2 linked regions of the Homo sapiens genome follow. The protein of the gene in region 1 purifies or fractionates together with the protein of each later gene. This does not show direct contact. Each region holds a gene or a part of one and is shown in the gene's direction. Other genes may lie near its edges. The genes, in order: MALT1 and CARD14.

What was found.
Region 2: the proteins of MALT1 (region 1) and CARD14 purify together in Homo sapiens (affinity purification with western blotting; 2 studies listed by BioGRID and IntAct, with this or other methods). This does not show direct contact.

What each region holds. Positions count from the first base shown.
Region 1 is NC_000018.10:58,730,262-58,737,767, forward strand, and holds part of MALT1 (mucosa-associated lymphoid tissue lymphoma translocation protein 1), read left to right. Parts: intron 1-3,135; coding exon 3,136-3,313; intron 3,314-3,620; exon of another isoform or gene 3,621-3,719; intron 3,720-4,045; coding exon 4,046-4,120; exon of another isoform or gene 4,121-4,126; intron 4,127-4,940; coding exon 4,941-5,068; intron 5,069-7,506. UniProt on the Homo sapiens protein: Protease that enhances BCL10-induced activation: acts via formation of CBM complexes that channel adaptive and innate immune signaling downstream of CARD domain-containing proteins (CARD9, CARD11 and CARD14) to activate NF-kappa-B and MAP kinase p38 pathways which stimulate expression of genes encoding pro-inflammatory cytokines and chemokines.
Region 2 is NC_000017.11:80,200,536-80,208,041, forward strand, and holds part of CARD14 (caspase recruitment domain-containing protein 14), read left to right. Parts: intron 1-137; exon of another isoform or gene 138-1,208; coding exon 1,209-1,335; exon of another isoform or gene 1,336-1,644; coding exon 1,645-1,885; coding exon of another isoform or gene 1,886-1,889; exon of another isoform or gene 1,890-3,141; intron 3,142-3,242; exon of another isoform or gene 3,243-3,286; coding exon 3,287-3,350; exon of another isoform or gene 3,351-3,691; coding exon 3,692-3,806; coding exon of another isoform or gene 3,807-3,816; exon of another isoform or gene 3,817-4,061; intron 4,062-4,499; coding exon 4,500-4,670; intron 4,671-4,797; exon of another isoform or gene 4,798-4,995; coding exon 4,996-5,117; exon of another isoform or gene 5,118-6,434; coding exon 6,435-6,550; coding exon of another isoform or gene 6,551-6,554; exon of another isoform or gene 6,555-7,506. UniProt on the Homo sapiens protein: Acts as a scaffolding protein that can activate the inflammatory transcription factor NF-kappa-B and p38/JNK MAP kinase signaling pathways.

The sequences.
Region 1 (7,506 bases):
ATTTCCATCACCCCAAAAAGAAACCCCATATCCATTAACAGTCACTCCCATTCCTCCTTACCCCAGCCCCTGGCAACCACCAATCTATTTTCTGTTTCTGTGGATTTGCCTATTCTGGACATTTCATATAAATGGAATCACCCAATATGTGGCCTTTTATGTCTGCCTTCTTTCACTTCACATGTTTTCAAAGTTCATTCATATTGTAGCATGTACTAGAACTTCATTATTTTAGGGCTAGATAATATTCTATTATATGATTATATTTTGTTTATCCATTTATCATCTCATGGACATTTTTGGACATGATTAATAATACTGCTGTGAGCATTTGTGTACACATTCTTGTGTGGACGTAGTTTCCATTTCTCTTCGGTATGTACCTGGAAGTGAAATTCCTGGGTCATATGGTAATCTATATTTAACTTTTTGAGGAACTGCAAAACTCTTTCCAAAGTTCTTACACCATTTTACATTTGTGCCACCAGAAATGAATGAGGGTTCCAATTTCTCTGCATCCTTGCCAACACTTGTTCTTGTCTGTCTTTTTTATTGTAGCCATCCTGGTGAGTTTAAAATGACTTGGAACTAGTGGCTAATGATGTTGAGCATCTTTTCATGTGCATATTTGCCACTCATATATCCTCTTTGGAGAAGCATCAGATCCTTTGCCTATTTTTAAATCAAGTCATTAGTCTTTTTTTTTTGAGATGGAGTCTTGCCCTGTTGCCCAGGCTGGAGTGCTAGTGGCACGATCTCAGCTTACTGCAACCTCTGCCTCCCAGGTTCAAGCGATTCTCCTGCCTTAGCCTCCCAAGTAGCTGGGATTACAGGCTCCCACCACCACACTTAGCTGGATTTTTGTATTTTTAGTAGAAACGGGGTTTCACCATGTTGGCCAGGCTGGTCTTGAACTCCTGACCTCAGGTGATCCACCCACCTTGGCCTCCCAAAGTGCTGGGATTACAGGCTTGAGCCTCCGCGCCTGGCCGTCATTAGTCTTTTTATTGATGAGTGGAAGAGTTCTTTATTCTGGATACAAGCTGTCCTTATCAGATAAATGATTTGCAAATATTTTCTCCCATTGTGTGGGTTGTCTTTTCACTTTACCTGATCTTCGTGGTTTATTGAATTAAATCCATTCTTTTGGTCATTATTTTTAAAACCCTATCTGTGCACTCCTTTTTAAAATTCCCTGTGTGTGCAGTCTTATTTTCATTCACAACAGTAATTTAGTTTTTTGCTAGGCTAGTCTCTTTTCTGTTAGCTTTCATTCCAGGTCCAATCCGTGTTTATTTCTGTTCTCCTGCCCATAATCTACCTCGCTCTCTCTCTGCCTTTGCAAATTTCTAGCCATTCCCTCTCTTAAGACCATCCCCTGTTGTTTCACTTCATACTGATATTCCTCTCTACTTTACTCATTTCATACGTACATGGTGGTTGTCCCACTAACATGATTTATGGCATTTAATTATGTGATGACTTTCATTGTTGCTTGATAACATAAACGTGTGAATCGTGTGAATTCATGTATGGAGATACATGAATCTCCTGATCTCCTGCTTAGAGGTCAGGAACTTTGTCCTTCTTTTTTGTTTCTCTCAGTGCCTACATGATAACTTCCAGTGCACACATGAGCTGTAATATAAACCCACACTTGAAAATGGGTATATCCATTTTCTCATTTTAGCTGAAACGTATTTGAAAGAACCATTTTTCTCATTTTAATCGAAATTCAGAAAAAGCAGACGACCTGGATTTTGTCCTGTAGGACCACATGAAGCAAATTGTCTTTAATTCTCAAAGCCGCATTCTCTGCTAGGAGTCGGGGCCATAATTACAATGGATTAGCTACTTTTGGTTCCCTGTCTAAATGGCTTTTACTATTTGCTTTAAAATACCCTGTAAAGAAATCATTAAATCCAGAATATTGAGAGAGCAAAATCAGTGGGCTCCAGATATTGCAAGCAGAGGGGAGGATATCTTCAAAAGTGTTTTGTCCAGTACTTTTATGAAGAAGTTCAGACTGATATTTTTGTTGTTTTTTACAGCCAAAACAAATTTCAAGAAAACATTGAGTTGTTTGGGTTAGTTTTTATAGTATCACTTCTCAGTAAGGAAATATGATTCATCTGTTGAGTCCTAAAACTATCCCAAATTTTAGATTATTGAGTCAAAAGACTCTAGATGGAAGATTGATATTTATATCTCATAGCAAAAAGAAAAAATAGCAATCTGCGAAGTCAGATTTCCCATCTCTGATTATAAAACTATATATTTTAATAACCCTTAACTGTTTATGGTAATACCTGCAGTTTCTTGACTTCATATTGCAGTTGCTATTCATCTGAATTGTGTTTGTTCATCCGTTAAATACTTACTAAGCTCCTGCTCTCTATGCCAGGAACACACAAATAAATAAATGTAAGACTATCTCTGCCCTAACAGAACTCCTAGCTTCATGGAGGAGACAAATGAGTCAGGAGAGAAATCCTAGCTGCATTCTTTTTTATATATCATAACATAAAATTGTATTTTATATTATACTATTGGTTACAAATATATTTTATAAATTAGGATATACTTCAGACAGCATTTTGATATTGTCTTGAAATGCAAATTTTAAGTGCAGACTGTTGGTAATTTATTTATTTATTTATTTATTTTGAGACAGAGTTTTGCTCTGTCGCCCAGGGTGGAGTACAGTGGCATGATCTCAGCTTACAGCAATCTCCACCTCCAAGGTTCAAGTGATTCTCCTGCCTCAGTCTCCCAAGTAGCTGGGATTACAGGTGCCCACCACCACGCCCAGCCAATTTTTGTATTTTTAGGAGAGATGGGGTTTCACCACGTTGGCCAGGCTGGTTTCGAACCCCTGACCTCAAGTGATCTGCCTGCCTCGGCCTCCCAAAGTGCTGGGATTATAGGTGTGAGCCGTCATGCCTGGCCTGTTGCCAATAATTTTAAATGCAAAATAACATTGTCTATATTTATAATTGGGTATTTCTTACATATGCTCACATCAACCTGAAGAAAATTAAAGTCAAGGTTTTTCTACAAAAAGTTATGCAGTCTGTATGTTCAGAGTGCATTTAGAATTGACATCTATCTCTCTCTTATTTTTCCTCTTTTCAGGGTTATTATATTATGCAGGACATGGTTATGAAAATTTTGGGAACAGCTTCATGGTCCCCGTTGATGCTCCAAATCCATATAGGTCTGAAAATTGTCTGTGTGTACAAAATATACTGAAATTGATGCAAGAAAAAGAAACTGGACTTAATGTGTTCTTATTGGATATGTGTAGGAAAAGGTAAGTTTTCTAATCTTTATTAAAGAATTGTTGGAGTTAAATATCGACCATGACAAACTAGAGAAACCTGTGAAATGCTAAAAGCCATTTGCGTTTGTGAATTTTAGTTTATACATTGAAACTGGAAGAACAAAACTAGAGGAAAATACATTTACTCCATGTATATCTAATTATTTTAACTCTTCATATTTGCTATAGAACACAAATGAAGAACTAAAGGGCATGGGCATTTACTCACACTACAGGGGATTCAACTCTCCAGAATGCCTTTAGATGACTTTAATAATCACTATAGTTATTCCCTCAGGAATTAACAAAACCAACACCCATGGAGTTGGGATCTCTGCTCACTAGTCAGTCCTGGTCTTCCAGACATGGAATGAGTAGCCGAAGCAGATGTTTGGAGGTTTGGATCCCATTTGTCTGCCATTGCCTTTCTAAGGAGTAGAACCAATGACTGTTCCTCTAGATTTACTATTTTTTTGCTTGCTCAGCATTTACCAATCAAAATCCAATGCCAGAGTTCAAATGCAACTCTAGTTTTAAAGCTAACAAGGAGTTAGTGGGTTATTTTGGGTAGATATGTAGCTACCTAGATGAAAAATTTTGAATCTATAATTTTAAATTATGTATTCTAAAAAACTGTTGTATTTTCTCATTATTTATACCCTTTTAAGAATGCTCTTTAACTTTTCATATTTCTATCTGCCCTCCTCCGCCTCCCTTAAATAGAAATGACTACGATGATACCATTCCAATCTTGGATGCACTAAAAGTCACCGCCAATATTGTGTTTGGATATGCCACGTAAGAACATTTGATGTTTACGTTGAAGTTTCCTTTATTGTTTGATGTCTTTTTGTTTTTGCTTTTTAGGAGCAGGGGTCTTAACTCTGTCACCCAGGCTGGAGTGCAGAGGCGCCATCATAGCTCACTGCTCCTGGGCTCAAGCGATCCTCCTGCCTCAGCCTTCTGAGTCGCTGGGATTACAGGCATGTGCCACTGTGCCTGGCCCCTGAGGGTTTTTTGATTATAGATTAGAGGCCTAGAAAATACCTATAGACATGTAGGCATAAATTTACCTCCTTGATATTCTGCGTAGAAAATTTTAAATGATCGACTTTAGCATTCCATATCATGGTATCTTAATTATTAAGCCCAAATTGGGCATGTAATTCCTGCTTAAAGATTAACTCTTTAATTATCAATGTCATGTGAGAGGCAGAAGAGAAAATGAAGCTTATTGGTGTATACAGAAGTCCCATGTGGCAAGTGTTTGCTTTTCTAACATTTTCTTTTTAAAAAATTATTTTTATTGGATATTGACAAGTTATAATTGTATGTATTTATGGGATACAAAGATATGCTATGATGTACGTATTCAATGTGGAATGATTGAATCAAGATAATTCACATATCACCTCAAATACTTATCTTTTTTCCTAACTGAAACATTGTACCCTGTGACTAACAGTCCCCACGCTGTCCCCACCCCCCCCCAGCCTCTGGTAACCACCATTCTGCTGGGTGCTTCTCTGAGTTCATTTTTATTAGCATCCACATATAAGTGAGAACATACAGTATTTGCCTTTCTGTGCCTGGCTTAACTTCTTTTTCTATTTTTAAGGTGTCAAGGAGCAGAAGCTTTTGAAATCCAGCATTCTGGATTGGCAAATGGAATCTTTATGAAATTTTTAAAAGACAGATTATTAGAAGATAAGAAAATCACTGTGTTACTGGATGAAGTTGCAGAAGGTAAAATAAAAAATAAAGAGAAAAGTACTCAGAAAAAGGAGAGCAGGGGAGACACACCTATTCAGGGTTCCCTCTCTGGTGATTGTTTTATTCTTATTATGTGGGTTTGGAATTAGTACCTACTTTATAAAACAATTTTTATATTAATATAACGTTCAGCAACACTTCTGCTATTTAATGTCATCTTTCCTTCCCTTTTGACCTAGCTCTCCACCATCTGTGCAGCATTACTCAGACTACAAGGCTAAGCCTCGGCACAGTCATTAATAAAGTTGAATTCTCAGAGCTCTACTTTGCTTCTATGCCCAGTGCCTTGGTACTGGCAAATCTCCCTATTTGAGGGTGGGTGGGTGGCATGGAGGGGTGGTGGGGAATTGTCCAGTGAGCAGTCTCTCCCAGGATGGGAGAGAGAAAACTTTACAGAAATTTTTAGACACTGCTGGGAAAAGCTGAGTTCATTTTTTTCCCTGATGAACTTAGTAGTTTTTAAATCCTGATTTAAGGATGTGATCCTAGGGGGTCTAATGCCACATCTTCCATTTCTATCTGTTCTCCCTGCCTGCTGGTATAATGCTGTGCATATGTCAGATGCTGAACAAGTACCTATTATTTCAGTAGATTGCACTGTGTTTTTTGAAAAAACATTTTATAAGCCATAGCAAAAAGAAGGTAACTTGGCCAGGTATGGTGGCTCAAGCCTGTAATCCCAGCACTTTGGGAAGCTGAGGCAGGAGGATCACTTAAGGCCAAGAGTTCAAGACCAGCCTAGGCAACATAGCGAGACCCTGTCTTCAAAATAAAAAATAAAAATAAAAAAGAAGAAATTATTTTACAAACTAGCACCACTAGAAAATGGAGTTTCATGGATGTTCCAGTGATGGCAGTTTGGGTATAAGGTGTTTGACCAACTGTCAGCCATATTTATTTTCATGTTTTTATCTGTGTAGCTATTTTAGATCACTTGACTTAGCCACTTTTCCATTTAACATAACCAGCCAGGGCTTTGGACTTCCTGCCACCCTCCCGCTTCATCCAGAGAAGTTCCACTTTTATTTGTTTTCTACATTAGGCTTCTTCTGAAGCTTACATTTGAAGGAAAGGCTCTGCTGCTTTAAAAAAAAAAAAAGAAAGAAAGAAAACCTTTGGATTATGTCAGTTATATTCAAACTGAGATCCAGTAAGGTGCTCCAGAAACTCTACAGTGTTTTATTTCAATTTCGTTTTTAAGTCCATTTTAACTATTTTAAAACTTAATAAAAAGCACCATGCTCACTCACATATGATATTTACCAAATTGTCATAGCAATGAATGGCATCCCGATATGTGCTGTGAGGATATTTGAACTTCTTATAAACATCTTAGACAGTTTTGCTTTTCGCTGATCTTTTTCAGTCCTACCATGTCTGCTTAACCAGAATTGCCCAGGCAGGAAGACCCTGTAGTGTACATGGAGCACACTCAGCTCAGTGCCGTGCACATTGTGCCCTTCGTGGGTAACGGCCCACTCATTGTACAAAATAAGTAAAGGCCTAATAGTATCATGATAAATAATACAGTTAAATCTAGCCCTTATTTTGAGTTTTGGATGCTTTGTGTCTGACCCCTGTCTTAGTAGTAAAGAGCAAAAGTAGTTGTATGAAATTTTTCACAAGTCATCCAATTTTGAAACAAAACTTTGCTGTTTCTCCCTTTGGATCTTCCAGATTACTTAATTGAAACTCATTCCATGGCTGGGCATGGTGGCTCACACCTGTAATCCCAGCACTTTGGGAGGCTGAGGTAGGAGGATTGCTTGAGCCCAGGAATTCAAGACCAGTCTGGGCAACACAGCAAGACCCCATCTCAATTTAAAAAAAAAATTATTTGGGGCCAGGTACAGTGGCTCATGCCTGTAATCCCAGCATTTGGGGAGGCTGAGGCAGGAGAATCACTTGAACACAGAAGTTTGAGACCAACCTAGGCAACATTGTCAGACCCCCCATCTCTATAAAAATTTAAAAAATTAGCCAGGCATTATGGTGTGCACCTGCAGTGCCAGCTACTCGCGAGACTTAGGTGGGAGGATTGCTCGAGCCTGGCAGTTTGAGACTGTAGTAAGTATGACCACACCACTGCTCTCCAGCATGTGTGACAGAGCAAGCCCCATCTCAAAAAAAAAAAAAAAGAAAATTCCAGAGGGAGAAAAGTATTCACAGATTATAAGCCAAGCAGTTGAAGGGGAAAATAAACATGTTACCAATTTCTTTTTTTAATTTTTTGGTTTCTTTGTGTGAGACTACAGAGTCTCTGTCGCGCAGGCTAGAGTGCAGTGGCATGATCTTGGCTTACTGCAACGTCCACCTCCCAGGTTCAAGTGATCCTCTTGCCGCAGCCTCCCAAGTAGCTGGGACTAAAGGCACACACCACCACGTCCGGCTAATTTTTGTATTTTTGGTAG
Region 2 (7,506 bases), on another chromosome or scaffold:
CCTTCTTTACATTTCTAGTTGTCCTCTTAAGCAGCAGTCCCCAACCTTTTTGGCACCAGAGACCGGCTTCATGGAAGACAACTTTTCCACAGACCGGGTTGTGGGGGATGGTTTTGGGATGATTCAAGCACGTTACATTGATTGTACACTTTATTTCTATTATTATTACACTGTAATATGTAATGAAAGAATCATACACTGAACCATAATTCAGAATCAGTGGGAGCCCTGAGCTTGTTTTCCTGCAACTAGACGGTCCCATCTGGGGGTGATGGGAGACGGTAACAGATCATCAGGAATTAGATTCTCATAAGGAGCGTGAAACCTAGATCCCTCACTTGCACAGTTCACGATAGGGCTCATGCTCCTCTGAGAATCTACTGCTGTGCTGAGCTGACAGGAGGTGGAGCTGAGGCCGTAATGCTCACTTGCCCACCACGCCCCTCCTGCTGTGTGACCCGGGTCCTGATGGACCATGGACCAGTACCAGTATGTGGCCCAGGGGTTGGGGAACCCTGCTCTTAAGGTTCCCAATTATCAGCTCTGAGGTAGTTCAAGCAACAGAGCCCCTTGACGATGTTCAGGGAGATAGTCCCGATATCCTAAGGGGGCCAATTAGATTCTAATGGTGTTAAAACACATCTTAATTTTTATTGTAAAAATATCTACTCTCCTAAGCTTAGAACAATATTGAGAAGAAATGAAGTGGATGGTGGAAGCCCTGGGGGGTGGGCCTTCACAGTGGGGAAGGCTGTGGGTGGAGAGCCAGGGCATCGGGTAGGTGAAGGCCAGGGATGCCACTCAGCATCCTGTAGGGCCCGGTATAGCCCGCAGCAGCACAGAATGATCCCAAGGCTAAGAAACCTCTATCTAGAATGCTCTTGAATGTTCTAGAACCGAGGTTCTTTCTTTTCTTTTCTTTTCTTTTTCAAGACAGGAAAGTGCTTATCACAAAGAACCCCCGATCTCGACTGGGGAAGGGTTGGCAGTTGACTCTCTGGCCAGCACTATGTGTAGCACGCATCACTAGAGGTGTGAAGGCCCCACAGAGGCTCTGGTGTGTGGCTTTGTTTTGACCAAGGCGTGCAGGCAGTGGTCCTACGGCAGGGCTGGCCCGCGCCTCGCCTCAGTGCCCTCAGCGCCTTCTGTCTTCTGGCTGGATTCAGAGTCCCGGGGGAAAGAGACTGACCTTCTCGACTTGCCCTCAGGTTGATTACGAAGCCTCAGAGCCCTTGTTCAAGGCAGTCCTGGAGGACACGACCCTGGAGGAGGCCGTGGGGCTTCTCAGGAGGGTGGACGGCTTCTGCTGCCTGTCTGTGAAGGTCAACACGGACGGTACACATACCACTCCTCTCGTGTGCACAGCTGCCTGGCCAGACTCCATGACCCTTAAGTCCCTGGTGGTTCTTCTGCACGCCCAGCAGCCAGGGACCCCCAGAGCCAAGAGAGGATCAGCCAGGCTGTGCCCCAGGTCCCCAGGAGGCCCCCAAGCCAGCTGGAAACCTCCCACCCACTGACTCCAGTGCCAGAGCAGCTTCTGAGACTGGGAGGGTCCTTCCTTCTCTCCTACTTTAATTTTCTGCAACCTTCCTCGCAGAGGCTCGTATCTGTGGCTCATCTGTGGCTCATGTCCCCTTTTATCAGGTTATAAGAGGCTACTCCAGGACCTGGAGGCCAAAGTGGCGACCTCGGGGGACTCATTCTACATCCGGGTCAACCTGGCCATGGAGGGCAGGGCCAAAGGGGAGCTGCAGGTGCATTGCAACGAGGTCCTGCACGTCACCGACACCATGTTCCAGGGCTGCGGCTGCTGGCATGCCCACCGCGTGAACTCTTACACCATGAAGGATACTGCCGCGCACGGCACCATCCCCAACTACTCCAGGTGAGCAGCTGCCTCGAGCTCGGTGCGTCCCCAGAGAGGCCCACAGGGAAATGGCACCCAGCCTGCCTCGGCTTCCTCCTCCTGCCCAGCAATAGAGGGTGGGCGTGGTGAGACCCCCCTAAGGAGGGAAGCCTGCCAAGATCACTGCTGAAGATGTTGTTTCTTTGTGATGGATGCTTTATATATTGCAAATGAAATGTTCATTCTAGAACATTCTAGATCTGGGTTTCTTAGCTCTGGGTTTCTTAGCTTTGGTACCATGGACGTTTGGGGCTGGATCCCCGTCTGTGGTGGGGCCGTCCTGGGCACTGCAGGATATAGAGCAGCATCCCTGGCCGCCCTACCCAGGATGCCGGGACTACTCCCATGCCCCAGCTGTGACAACCAGAAATGTCTCTATAGGTTGCCAAGGGTCCCCTGGTTCTCCTAGGACTGTCTTGGTCTTAGCACTGAAAGCCCCACTTGCAGGGAAGCCCCTCGGTCCTGGGCAAGCAGGGACAGCTGGTCACCCTCCCTGGGGAGTGACATTGCCCCCTGCCTTGCTCCATTGAAAACCACTGCTCTAGGCCGAGCATGGTGGCTCACACCTGTAATCCAAACACTTTGGGAGGCCGAGGCGGGTGGATCATCTGAGGTCAGGAGTTCGAGACCAGCCTGGGTAACCTGGTGAAACCCTGTCTCTATTAAAAATACAAAAAACTTAGCTGGGCGTGGTGGCAGGTGCCTGTAATCCCAGCTACTCAGGAGGCTGAGGCAGGAGAATCACTTGAACCCCGGAGGCAGAGGTTGCAGTGAGCCGGGATTGAGCCATTGCACTCCAGCCTGGGCGACAGAGTGAGACTCTGTCTCAAAAAAAAAAAAAAAGAAAAGGAAACCATTGTTCTAGATCAGCCTATGGGAGGCTCCAAGTTTCAAGTGCACGGAACGCACAGTGCTAGAAAGCAGGAGTGTTGAGCTCAGCACCCCCATCACTCATTGCAAACTCAAGTCCCCTGGGGATCGGAGCCAGCAGGTCCAGGGAGAGGCCTGGCACTCTGCATTTCTAACAGCTCTCTCGGTGACTCCAGGCTGCAGGCCAGGGACCCACCATGAATATTGAGGTCCTGGAGTGGGGCCCTGTACGCTGGCTGCTCAACAGCACCCCCTGGGTCCCGCCCCAGGACAAGTAAATCAGCATCTCCAGGGGTGGGCCGAGGCCCTGGAGTCTTTTGAAAGCTCTGGAGACTGGCATGGCCGCCAGGATGGAGCGCTCCAGCCTGCAGCAAAGGGATGTGTGGAGCTCTAGGTGGAGGCCCTTCTCTCCCACCCGGCCATCTCCCCCACTCTCCCCTGCTCGGCTCTCCCCTGCCCTGCTCACCTGGCAGGAGGCAGCTGGGTCAGGGCCTCTGCTGGTCTCTGCAGGGCTCAGCAGCAGCTCATAGCCCTCATCCAGGACATGACTCAGCAGTGCACCGTGACCCGCAAGGTGAGGCTCCAGGGAGGGGCCTGGACCCCACTGGGGTGGGCTGGAAGAGGGGCTCGGTGCTGGCAGGGTGGCAGGAGGCACTGTGTGGAGAGTGGGCTGCTGATTGGAGGGTAACCCCACCTGTCTCTCCTCTGCACCCCTTCAAACCAGGGCAGGGTCTGCAGCCCCTGCCCAGCCTGCAGGCTCTTGCACAAGTGCAGACACACCTCAGGCTGTTCTCAGAGCATCTGCGCCTCTGCATCACTCCCAGGTCGCCCTAGTGCCAATCATCTCCCCTGAATTCCCATTCCTGTTGATGGCTTCAACAGCTCCTCCTCATCCTTTCTCTGTCCCTCCTTTAGCCATCTTCTGGGGGACCACAGAAGCTGGTCCGCATCGTCAGTATGGACAAAGCCAAGGCCAGCCCTCTGCGTTTGTCCTTTGACAGGGGCCAGTTGGACCCCAGCAGGATGGAGGGTGAGGCCTGGTGAGCTGGCACAGGGGCCACTGGCTCCAAGTGGGTGAGGGGCTTTGGGAGCTGCTGCTAGTTGGTCAGCTGGGGCAGGGGGATGCCACTCATTTAGGCCAGGATCTGGTCTTCAAGAATCATGGGGCTGGGTGTGGTGGCGCACACCTGTAATCCCAGATACTCGGGAGGCTGAGGCAGGAGAATCGCCTGAACCCGGGAGGCAGAGGTGGCAGTGAGCCGAGATGGTGCCATTGCACTCCAGCCTGGGCAATAAGAGCAAAACTCTGTCTCAGGAAAAAAAAAAAATTTCAGGAGAGGAGTACAGGACAGAGGGAGGGCTAGGACCCTGTGCCCTGGAGGATGGCTGAGGAGAAGGGTGCCACTCTCCCAGATCCTTTGGAAGGAAGAAAACCCTGGCTTCCGCCATCCTCCCTTGGGCCTATAGGAAACAGGATTAAGTTGCAGGCTGCAAAGCAGTCCCTGGAGAGCCACAGAGCTGTGTAACCCCCGTGCAAAGGAGCCGCTCAGCCAGGGGCTATGGAACTGGGAGTGAGTCCTGTGACCGCTGAGCCTGTGCCCCTGGAATTCTAGGTGCTGGGGCTGCTGCAGTGAGCAAAGCAGACCCAGTCCCTCCCGGGGCAGGGTAGGCTGGCTGGGGGCTGCCGCAGCCTCACCCACCCTCAGGATCCTCTCCTCCACAGGCTCCAGCACGTGCTTCTGGGCCGAGAGCTGCCTCACCCTGGTGCCCTATACCCTGGTGCGGCCCCATCGACCCGCCCGGCCCCGGCCTGTGCTCCTCGTGCCCAGGGCGGTTGGGAAGATCCTGAGCGAGAAACTGTGCCTCCTCCAAGGGTTTAAGAAGTGCCTGGCAGGTATGCTGTTGCCTGGGAATCCCTCTACCCCTTCCACCTTCCCTCCCTCCCTCCTCCCCTTCCTCCCTCCTTCCTCCCCTTCCTCCCTCCTCCTTCCCTCCCCCACCACGCACATTCCCACACTCACCTGCTGTGTCCAGATAGTTCAGGATGGAGGTGCAGGGCACAGAGCGGGGTGTGCAGGGTCAGGTTTGTAAAGTGGACATCCTAAGAAGAGCTTCTCCCAGTGCTGGCAGGGTTCACGGGGACAGGGGTGTTTACCATGGGACTCCCCCAGACCCCCACACAGCTGGTCTATGATGGCCCCGTCCAATGTCACCTGTAGAGTACTTGAGCCAGGAGGAGTATGAGGCCTGGAGCCAGAGAGGGGACATCATCCAGGAGGGAGAGGTGTCCGGGGGCCGCTGCTGGGTGACCCGCCATGCTGTGGAGTCCCTCATGGAAAAGGTGAGGTCAAGGGCGGGGTGGGCAGGGGAGCTGTCCTGGGAAGGGTTTCAGGAATGCAGAGGAGGGGGATGAGATAAAGGTACAGGGACCGACCTGAGACCTGGGTGACCTTGTCGCCGACCTCTGGGTCCCAACAGCCCAGCAGGAGCCCAAAACTCATCTCAGCCAGTTAGGATCCACGTGACTGTGGGTGAGGTCTCCCAACTCCTTGAATCTCAGTTTCCTCAGCTTGGGGGATGTTTAATAGATATTTGTTCGAGAATGAATAAATCCGAGCTAACAACACTCTCCACGTTTGAAGGCGCAAACGCGTGAAAAGCAGCTCCCCGTGAACCACAGCTTTGTGTCTGCACAGGCACGGGAAGCCGAGTCTGGCATCTGCGTGCCTCCTGTAGGGGCTGGCGGAGCTCCATGCCAAGTTCACCTCATCCCCAGAGCTCACAATTTCTAGATTTTCCCAGTGAAAAATCAAAGGGATGGAAACTCTTAATACTGCATAGCACACAGCCTCATTTAGAAAGTGGCAAACTCAGCTGGGCCTGGGGCTCACGCCTGTCATCCCAGCACTTTGGGAACCCGAGGTGGGAGGATCGCTTGAGCCCAGGAGTTCAAGACCAGCCTGAGCAACACAGTGAGACCCGTCTCTAAAAAAAATTAAAAAATAAAAAGAGAAGAAAGTAGCCGGGCACAGTGGCTCGCGCCTGTAATCCCCACACTTTGGGAGGCCTAGGCGGGAAGATTGCTTGAGCCCAGGAATTTGAGACCAGCCTGAGCAACACAGTGAGACACCCGTCTCTACAAAACATTTAAAAGCTAAAAAAATTAAAAGTGGGCCGGGTGCGGTGGCTCACGCCTCTAATCCCAGCACTTTGGGAGGCCGAGGCGGGCAGATCACCTGAGGTCAGGAGATCAAGACCATCCTGGCTAACACGGTGAAACCCTGTCTCTACTAAAAACAGAAAAAATTAGCCAGGCGTGGTGGTGGGCGCCTGTAGTCCCAGCTACTCGGGAGGCTGAGACAGGAGAATGGCATGAACCTGGGAGGCAGAGCTTGCAGTGAGCCGAGATCGCGCCACTGCACTCCAGCCTGGGCGACAGAGCGAGACTCCGTCTCAAAAAAATAAAAAATAAAAATAAAAAAAAGAGAGAAGAAAGTGGCAAGCTCTATTCCCTCATCTCCTCTACAAAATTCAGCTCTGCCCAGCTCCTGCCCTGCCCTCAGCCTGTCCGGAGGGCCCTTCTGACCTGGGCGTTGGCTCCCTTTGCTTCCTCTGAGGCCTGTGATCTTGACTCACTTCTTCTCTCCCTCCCACAAAGAACACCCATGCCCTCCTGGACGTCCAGCTGGACAGTGTCTGCACCCTGCACAGGATGGACATCTTCCCCATCGTCATCCACGTCTCTGTCAACGAGAAGATGGCAAAGAAGCTCAAGTAGGTGCACGCTGGGGGCTGGGCAGGGGCTTCGAAGCGGCTCCTGGGCTCCCCCAAAGCCCACGGCAGGTGCCTCTGGAGTGTGCTCTGCGGTTTGCAGGAAGCTGAGGCGCTGACAGGGCCGTTTCCGCACAACTTTGGGACAAGGGCCCCGCTGATTGCTCATGAGATTCCCCTGATTTTGGCCGGGCGTGGTGGCTCACGCCTGTAATCCCAGCACTTTGGGAGGCCAGGGTGGGCAGATTGCTTGAGGTCAGCAGTTCGAGACCAGCCTGGCCAACATGGAGAAACCCTGTCTCTATTAAAAATACAAAAACTAGCCAGGTGTGGCGGCGGGCGCCTGTAATCCCAGCTACTCGGGAGGCTGAGACATGATAATTACTTGAACTGGGAGGTGGAGTTGCGGTGAGCCAAGATCGCGCCACTGCACTCCAGCCTGGGTGACAGAGCGAGACTCTGTCTCAACAAAACAAAACAACAACAACAACAACTGCTCTGATTTCACGCTTACCAAACAAACTTGATTTCAAATCTGGCCTCTCCAGAATCTTGATACCAGGATGACGGTGCCTTTTACAGTGGGCAAAAGTAGCCTAGTCACTGGAAAATGACATTTTATAATTGAAATTTAAAGTTGTAAATTAACAAATTGGCACTCCCTCCCCCAAGAGCAGCTCAGAGGACCATTGTAAGGCCAGAACCCCACCCGGCCTCAGCTCCACTGACCCTCCACTTACTGGTGCTTGGCTAGCACAATCTAATCCTTGTCGGCTAAGGACAAAAAAAAAAAAAGTAAAAAAATTACTTGGTTTCCTGGGGACAGACCAAGATGTCCTGCTACTGTGCCCTTTCTACTCCAGGAAGCAAGGCTGTGTTCTAGACAACCTGCCTCCCACCACTGGGGCCTGGGGCCTATTTTCTTTACAAGGTCCCCTCAAAGCGAGGCCACCTGTGTT